Linked DNA regions of Homo sapiens. The protein of the gene in region 2 interacts with the protein of the main gene of each other region in a pairwise test. Each region holds a gene or a part of one and is shown on either strand. Other genes may lie near its edges.

Evidence for each region. The genes of interacting proteins can lie anywhere in the genome.
Region 1: the proteins of XBP1 (region 2) and ATF6 interact in binary tests that used the Homo sapiens proteins (3 or more experiments, as listed by UniProt).

The regions. Positions count from the first base shown.
Region 1 is NC_000001.11:161,846,217-161,850,041, reverse strand, and holds part of ATF6 (cyclic AMP-dependent transcription factor ATF-6 alpha), read right to left. Parts: intron 3,594-3,825; coding exon 3,462-3,593; intron 1-3,461.
Region 2 is NC_000022.11:28,798,773-28,802,372, forward strand, and holds the start of XBP1 (X-box-binding protein 1), read right to left. Parts: upstream 1,798-3,600; 5' UTR 1,753-1,797; coding exon 1,526-1,752; intron 1,306-1,525; exon of another isoform or gene 1,265-1,305; coding exon of another isoform or gene 1,188-1,264; intron 382-1,187; coding exon 285-381; intron 1-284. UniProt on the Homo sapiens protein: Functions as a transcription factor during endoplasmic reticulum (ER) stress by regulating the unfolded protein response (UPR).

The DNA.
Region 1 (3,825 bases), on a different chromosome or scaffold from region 2:
ATGGACTAGGTTTGTGGCAGCAGAGACGGAGAGGAGTGGACCAATTCAAGACAATTTTGGGGAAGAGTATCAACAACACTTGTTGAAAGACAGGAATCAGGATTTCTGGCTTAAGCAATGGAAAGGAAAAAACACAGTTGTAGAAAATTGGTTGGAAGTAAAACAGGGAGAGGAACTGAGTTCCACAGTGCACATGTTAAGTTTGAAATGTTAAAACAGAGATGTCAAAGAGACTATTGGATATGTGACTCTGGAGACTCAGAAGAGAAGTCTGGACTGAAAACATAAATTTGAGAGTCATCAGGACATATAGATATGAACTGTGCATGAAATTATAGATGAGTCACCTAGGCAGAAAGAAAATAAAAAAAGTTTACAGTTCCAAACCTTGAGAGTTGGGTAAAAAAAGAGCCCACAAAGATTACTGTGAAGCAGCAGCCAATAAAAAAAGGAAACTAAAAAACCATAGTAACACAAAAGGAAAGTCTTTCAAGGAGCAAATGACCCACACAGCCAAATGCTGAGGAAAGGGCAAGTAAGATGGCAGAAAGCACTGGCCCCTTAACAGAAATAACTCTGGCAGAGTGGAAGGCTAACTTCAAGTTAAAAGTTAGAGATAGCTATTTATGCCACACACGAGAGAAAAGAAACAATAGCAGAGGATATATAGAACATTCTTCCCTGCAACTTGCACCAGGAATATTCTCAATGTCCTCTCTTGTGGCTGTAAGGGTTAAGTAGGTTTAAGTTGTTTGGAATAAAACAGACATGTTGGTGCACAGGTAATGAATGCAAACACAAAAGGATCAGCCTAAAATGAAGCATTGAGTGAGAAGGAAAAAAAGTATCTGTCTTGTGTTTGATAAATCTGAATGCCTCTAAGAGGAGGCTGCTTAACACCTCTTCTTATAAATCTATGACATACGCATTATTTTAAAAATCATGCCTGCATACTTAGAAAAATACAAACACTGTAGTCCATGAGAAAAGTCCAAAACTGCTTTTGAAAATATATTTGTGATCTGAACTCTAGTAATGATTTCTGCACATCTGTGCTAACTGGCTTTGTTCTATCAGCCAAAAATATTCTTTGGAAAAAAAAAAAAAAAGTCTGATAGGAGAAATACCAGGACAAGGATTGGGTGGAGTTAAAGGAGAGAGAAAATCAGCCAACATACAATCTGGAGACAATTAGACCAACATTAGCCCAGGAACAGTCAGAGTTCGAGTCTGCTTGCAAACATTTTATGCCAAGAGAAAAAAATTCAACAAATAAATCATTAAAGTAAATAAAGTAAAGGACAGTGCTAGGGAGCTAGAGTTAATGAGAATTCTTGGAGTAAAGATCAGTTCTGGGTGACATCTTATATAGGGTGACCATCCTTTCTCATTTATCCAAGACAGCAGTACTGGTATTCTGATGTAATTATTACTAGCACTACCTTTCCTTCTTAAGAGTGTCCCAGTTTGATAGAACATTATATGGTCATACTATTTATATGCCACACATTTCTATGACTGAAAAAATATAAGCAGTTAATTACTAAATGATAGGCTAATACAATATTATAAACTATGGGATTAGAATCTACTCATTTTTTATTTGAACCATGTCTCATAGCTCTCCTTAGAAAAAGAAACATAAAGTAAGCTGCATTAAAAAAAATGTATAGGTATCACGGCTGAAAATAGATAAAACATCTAAAATTCAGTTCAGAACACAGAACAAAGTAATATTAGGTGCTTTCAAATGTTTCACAAACATTTTTTGGTATCTTTTATTCAGTATTTATACTGATAAAATCAAGAACATCAAATTAATGGACTGACATTTATTTAAATCTCTCAAGTTGCTGAAAAATATTTCAAAGGACTTGCATGGAATCAAGAATCCATAATCTTTCCTGGGTTGTTTTTTGGTTTTTTTTTTTCCCCAAGACCAGTAACCCAGATTATTCACTCAATGGTGACTTTGGAGAAGGGAGGGAAAAAATAGCTTGCATCCCATGTACTACTCTGAAAGCTGATAAATTTCAGCCAGAAAGTCATTCAGACTTTTAGTTTGAACTAGTATGATCAGACTACTATGCTTTCTGGGAGCCACCATGTTATCTTATGCTAATGTGGAAGGCTTCTACTTGCTGCAGTTAGTGCAGAATAAATAATATTCTTGTAAAGCTTACCTGAACTGTAATTTCAAGCATTCAATCCATAACTTGTTCTATTCTTTAGCAAGACGCTATCTCAACTCTCGTAAATCCAAAGGCTATTAGATTTAAATTTAATTTTTGATGGATCTTATGTGGACACTAACAGAATTCAAAATTATAGAACACGTAGGGCAAACCTGCACAAATTACTTATGAAAATTAAATATACTATTAAACTCTACCAATATTCAGGGGCACCGTTAAGAGATCATCAAGGTGAATATTTTAAGAAGTATGATGAATTTTGGCATGTAAAAAAGCAGGAAATGCTATGTTTTCCAACATTATGACATCTATCATTGCTATGTTGCGTTGCAGCTACTGCCATAAAATCCTTTGGGTCCTCCACTGACTTGGCATACTGTACTCCACAAAAATAACAGTTTTTTCAGGAAGGCTAAGTGGAGACAAGCCTGCAGGATTGTGGTGATCATCTTTCAACAGTATGGATGTAACACAGTAAAAATCAGGAAGAAAGATTGCCCTCAACCTACAAATCCTTAAAGAGATAAAAGTAAACAAATCTGTAATAATTTTCAAGCATTATACTGTGCAATAGTTACCATACTGTGACCTCCCTTTGCCTTGTTAGTCAAGGACCTGGCTCCATTTGGCTCTAATACAAATTCTAAATAACACAGGGAAATGTTTATCAAAAAGTATACAACTATAAAAATGTCCACTATACCTTCTTCTAGTTAACATAATATAGAAATTGCATTTTTATACAATTAAAGCCTTTTGCTATTGACAAGCAATATGGAAATTTATCAAGTCATTATTAAATTGCAACAAGGGAGGGATTCAACAAAGATCACAATAAATGAGTATAAATGATTTTACCTAATGACTGCAAATAGGTTCAATCATGTTATTCCACCATATCATATCCATCCACAGGTGAGACAGTAACAAATATTAGATGTATTATATGTATAAACACATGATAGATAAAATAATTATTAAAGACATTATATATAATATGTATATATTTCAATATGTATATTAATGCACACAAACTGAGATTTTAAGATTACATCTCTATAGGAATTTTAAAACTACAAAAGGTTTCAAAGTAAATTTAATTTTACAATATTAAAAGTAAAATGTATTAATGGTTTCAGTAATTTATGTGTTCTACTACTCAAAATATACACGAACAATTTAGATGCAATGTTATACTACAGATAATTCTCTTGTTTCAGCTTCATTAAATCACTTAGGCCAAAAGATAGATGCATGCCATCTTACCTGTAGCTGTTTTTCTGGATAATACCATCTGATGTGTCCTGTGCCTCTTTAGCAGAAAATCCTAGAAGGTGCCTCCTTTGATTTGCAGGGCTCACACTAGGGTTCATTCTCCTGGAATCCTGTTCCAACATGCTGAAAATAAAAAACAGGAAATAATAGCTGAAATAAAAATATGTCACACATATGCCTGCTACATGCAGCTGTGAAACAAACCACAATTCCTTTGCAGATCCATGCACGTAACAAAAATGCTAGGCATAGACGCAAGTACAAATAGGGTACTGAAGGTGTTCAAATCCTTAGCATGGTAACCTGCACATATCAAAAACAATTTTTCTAAGTATAAAAGTACCTTATTTATAAA
Region 2 (3,600 bases):
TTTTTTTTTTTTTTTTGGTATATTTTTGGGTAGAGACGGGATTTTACCATGTTGGCTAGGCTGGTCTCAAACTGCTGGCTTCAAGTGATCTGCCCAACTCAGGCTCCCAAAGTGCTGGGATTACAGGCATGAGCCACCATGCCCAGCCTAGTTTAACTTTTAATCATATATTCAATTGTATTCTAATAGGGGCTGAAACAACTTGGGATGGGAAGCAAATATCAGAACATTCACCAAGGAAGGGTATACAATGGATAAAAGAGTTTGACCTTAAGTAGTTTTACCTCTTCTTCTAAATCTACCACTTGCTGTTCCAGCTCACTCATTCGAGCCTTCTTTCGATCTCTGGCAGTCTGAGCTGCTACTCTGTTTTTCAGTTTCCTAGGAAGAGAAGGAACATACCACACTGAGTCATATCAAACCTTATTTATGTCTTTATTTGAAAACTTTACCAGCTGGTGCTTTCATTTTTATTTACAGTATAAGACAGACTAATGATAAAATACACTTCAGGCTCCTCCCCTCAATAAAACAAAATAAAAAATACAGTCTTCTGTCAATCTAGCTCGAAGACCTGCTTTATTCTCTCCTATATTGCATCATCCGTCCACCTCAGACTCATCCCCGTCACAGCACTGGGGCTGGACACACACACTATTCATCTTGCATCATAAGGAACTTTCCTCTTTCCCCATCTATTCCCCCGCTGCTTCCTGTCTCCAGTTCTCTTAAACAGGATCCAACCTGGCCTCATTAATCTAGTGAAGGCTGCAATCTTGCTATGACATCAACCCTCCGTCCCCCAGTCCAATTTAGAAAAGGGAGAGGCTGATGCCACTCCCTGATCTCTAGTGTTGAGATCCTAGGCAGTGACCTGCTGATGGGTCCGTGTCTGTTGGAGGAGACACTTTTTTTTTTAAAAGAATTAACTCAGAAGAGACACTTCATAAATCACAGAAGGCACAATGATCACAAAAGAGTGAACATTTACGGAGGACTAAGTGCTAGGCACATTATATCCAAGTCTCAATCTCCCCAAAGACCTCATGAAGTAGGTTCCATTTTAAGAACGCAGATACTGAGCTAGACCAGTGAGCCTCGCAGAATTCCCAGCCCTTTCAACAGCTCTGTTATTTCAGCTCCGCGCCTCTCCAGAAATAGCAGTAAACCAAAACAGATTATTCGACCTCATGTCCGAGTTAAGAGGCTGAACCACCAGTCTGCGGCCACACAGCAAGAGGGCCTGGAAGACAGGTGCCCGCATCCCCAGCTCTGGTCATCTCTAACGAGAGAGTTAAAAAGTACAGAAAAGAGCCCTGGGCCGCCCTAGGTTCCCAGCGTGGCGGATCCGGTCAGTCCGGGCTTCCTGCCCCGCCCCGCGCCACGCTGGCACCGACCCGCCAGGCCAAAGGCGACGGAGCCCTGCGGGGCGGCCAGTGCTGGGTCCCCGCTCCCAGCCCCTGCCCCTGCCCCTGTCCCTAGTCCCGGCTTCAGATCTGGCCCCAGACCCCGGCCCCTCGCCCACCTCCTCAGCGCCTTCTCCTCGGGGCTCAGGTGCGTGAGGCGCTGTCGCTTGCGCGCCTGGGGCAGCCCCCCGCTCGCTGCCTCCGGGCTGGCCCCTCTCTGGGCTGGCACCATGAGCGGCAGGGCCTGGCCGGCCGGGGCTCCGGCGGCGGAGGCGGGCTGCCCCGACAGAAGCAGAACTTTAGGGGTCCCGTCGGCCGGGTTCGGCGCGGCTGCCACCACCACCATAGCTCCAGACTACGCACCGCGCACCGCGCGCCGCAGCCGCCCAGCGCCCAGCCTCGCCGCGCCCGGCCTTTCTACGGTCGTGGCCCTCCGCGATTGGCCAGCGTCGCGTGACGCACGGCCGAGCTCGGCGTCCATTGGTCCGGCCTGCCCGGCGGGGCGTTTCAGGACCGTGGCTATGGAGTCCGGCGTGGCAGCGGCAATCCCTGGCCAAAGGTACTTGGGGTCATTTTCCGCGGGGGGTTACGTGCGGGAGCGTGTCCTCCACAAACGGATTTTCCCCCCTTAAGCGGACTTATTTCCATCCGGAGTGACAGAATTTAATTCCAAACCGAGAGCTTTCCAGACTGACGAATTTTTACCGGGACTAACAGAGAATTACCTCAGCCTGACAACATTTTATCTCGTGCGCCACTTCGGGATCCGAGTGGAGCCGAAAGTCGAGATAGAGCGCAGTTGGGCCTTGGGTTCGAAAAGACTGGACAGAGGTTTCAGTGAGCCGAGATCGCGCCACTGCACCCCGGCCTGGGCGACAGAGCGAGACTCCGTCTCAAAAAAAGAAAAAGAAAAAAGCCTGGAAAGAAATTCTGCGGAATAGAAGTCTTTAAGAAATGAGATCGTGCCCTTTAAAACTAAGTTTAACAATAGTGAGGGCTTAATAAACGATAGGTGTTATCTCTGGGTTGGAGGGGAATACCTTCAATTTTAGTTTTTCGTTCCATTTCTAAAGTTTGTACTATGAGCGTGCATTTTTTTAAATTTAGTTTTATTTTATTTTTTAAATAGAAACGAGGTCTCACTGTGTTGCCCAGGCTGATCTCGAACTTCTGAGCTCAAGTGAACCTCCCGCTTCGGCCTCTATTATTTTTATTTTATTTTTTTTTCTTATTTTTTGAGACGGAGTCAGGCTCTGTCACCAGGCTGGAGTGCAGTGGCGAGATCTCAGCTCACTGCAACCTTCGCCTCCGGGTTCAAGCAATTCTCCTGCCTCAGCCTCCCGAGTAGCTGGGACTACAGGCGCCCGCCACCACACCCGGCTAATTTTTTGTAGTTTAGTAGAGGCGGGGTTTCACCGTGTTGGCCAGGATGGTCTCCATCTCCTGACCTCGTGATCGCCCGCCTCGGCCTCCCAAAGTGCTGGGATTACAGGCGTAAGCCACTGCGCCCAGCCTCTTGTTATTTTAAATGAGGGGACAGGAAAACGTCACATGTAGAGACTGAGACCCCGGGGTTGACCCTGAGCCCCCTCTCCGAGGGGAGGTCGAGGTTCCTGCCTGGCCATTGTGGCGTGAGGGTGGCCAGGTGTTTGTGAAAGAGGGGCCCCCAGAGAGCAGCACGGGAGCGATTTATACACACGAATATTAACATGGAGAAGTCCGAGAAACCCCCGTAAATATGCCTGTCCACTTTTTTTAAAGCAAATTACAAAATGTGAAATTCCCCAGAAATGCACAGCAATACCTTCTCTAACAAGTAATTATTGCTTCCTCCTCTGCGGGCAGCACTATTCCAGGTTCTAGGGGTGCAAACAGTAGTAAGACTGCTACCTGGTATTTGGAGGATATGCAAAAAGTGAAATGTTAAGATAGCAGGTTCCTAAGTAATTCTTTAGTGTTATTAAGTCGGATTAGCTGGTCAATTTTATTTTGGTAGGGAGGGAACAGGATGGGAAAAAGAACTAAAAGCAAGTCCATCTCTTGATATCTAAGCCCTCTAAAGGGACATAGTTTTGGTTTTTGCCAGGACTGGGCCACGAGTCTCCTAACGTGTTTTCTCCCTCTTCGTTGGGAGGGAAATCAATGATTTTTTTTTTTTTAACTGGGCTGTCCCAACTCCAGAGCCTCCTGAGCA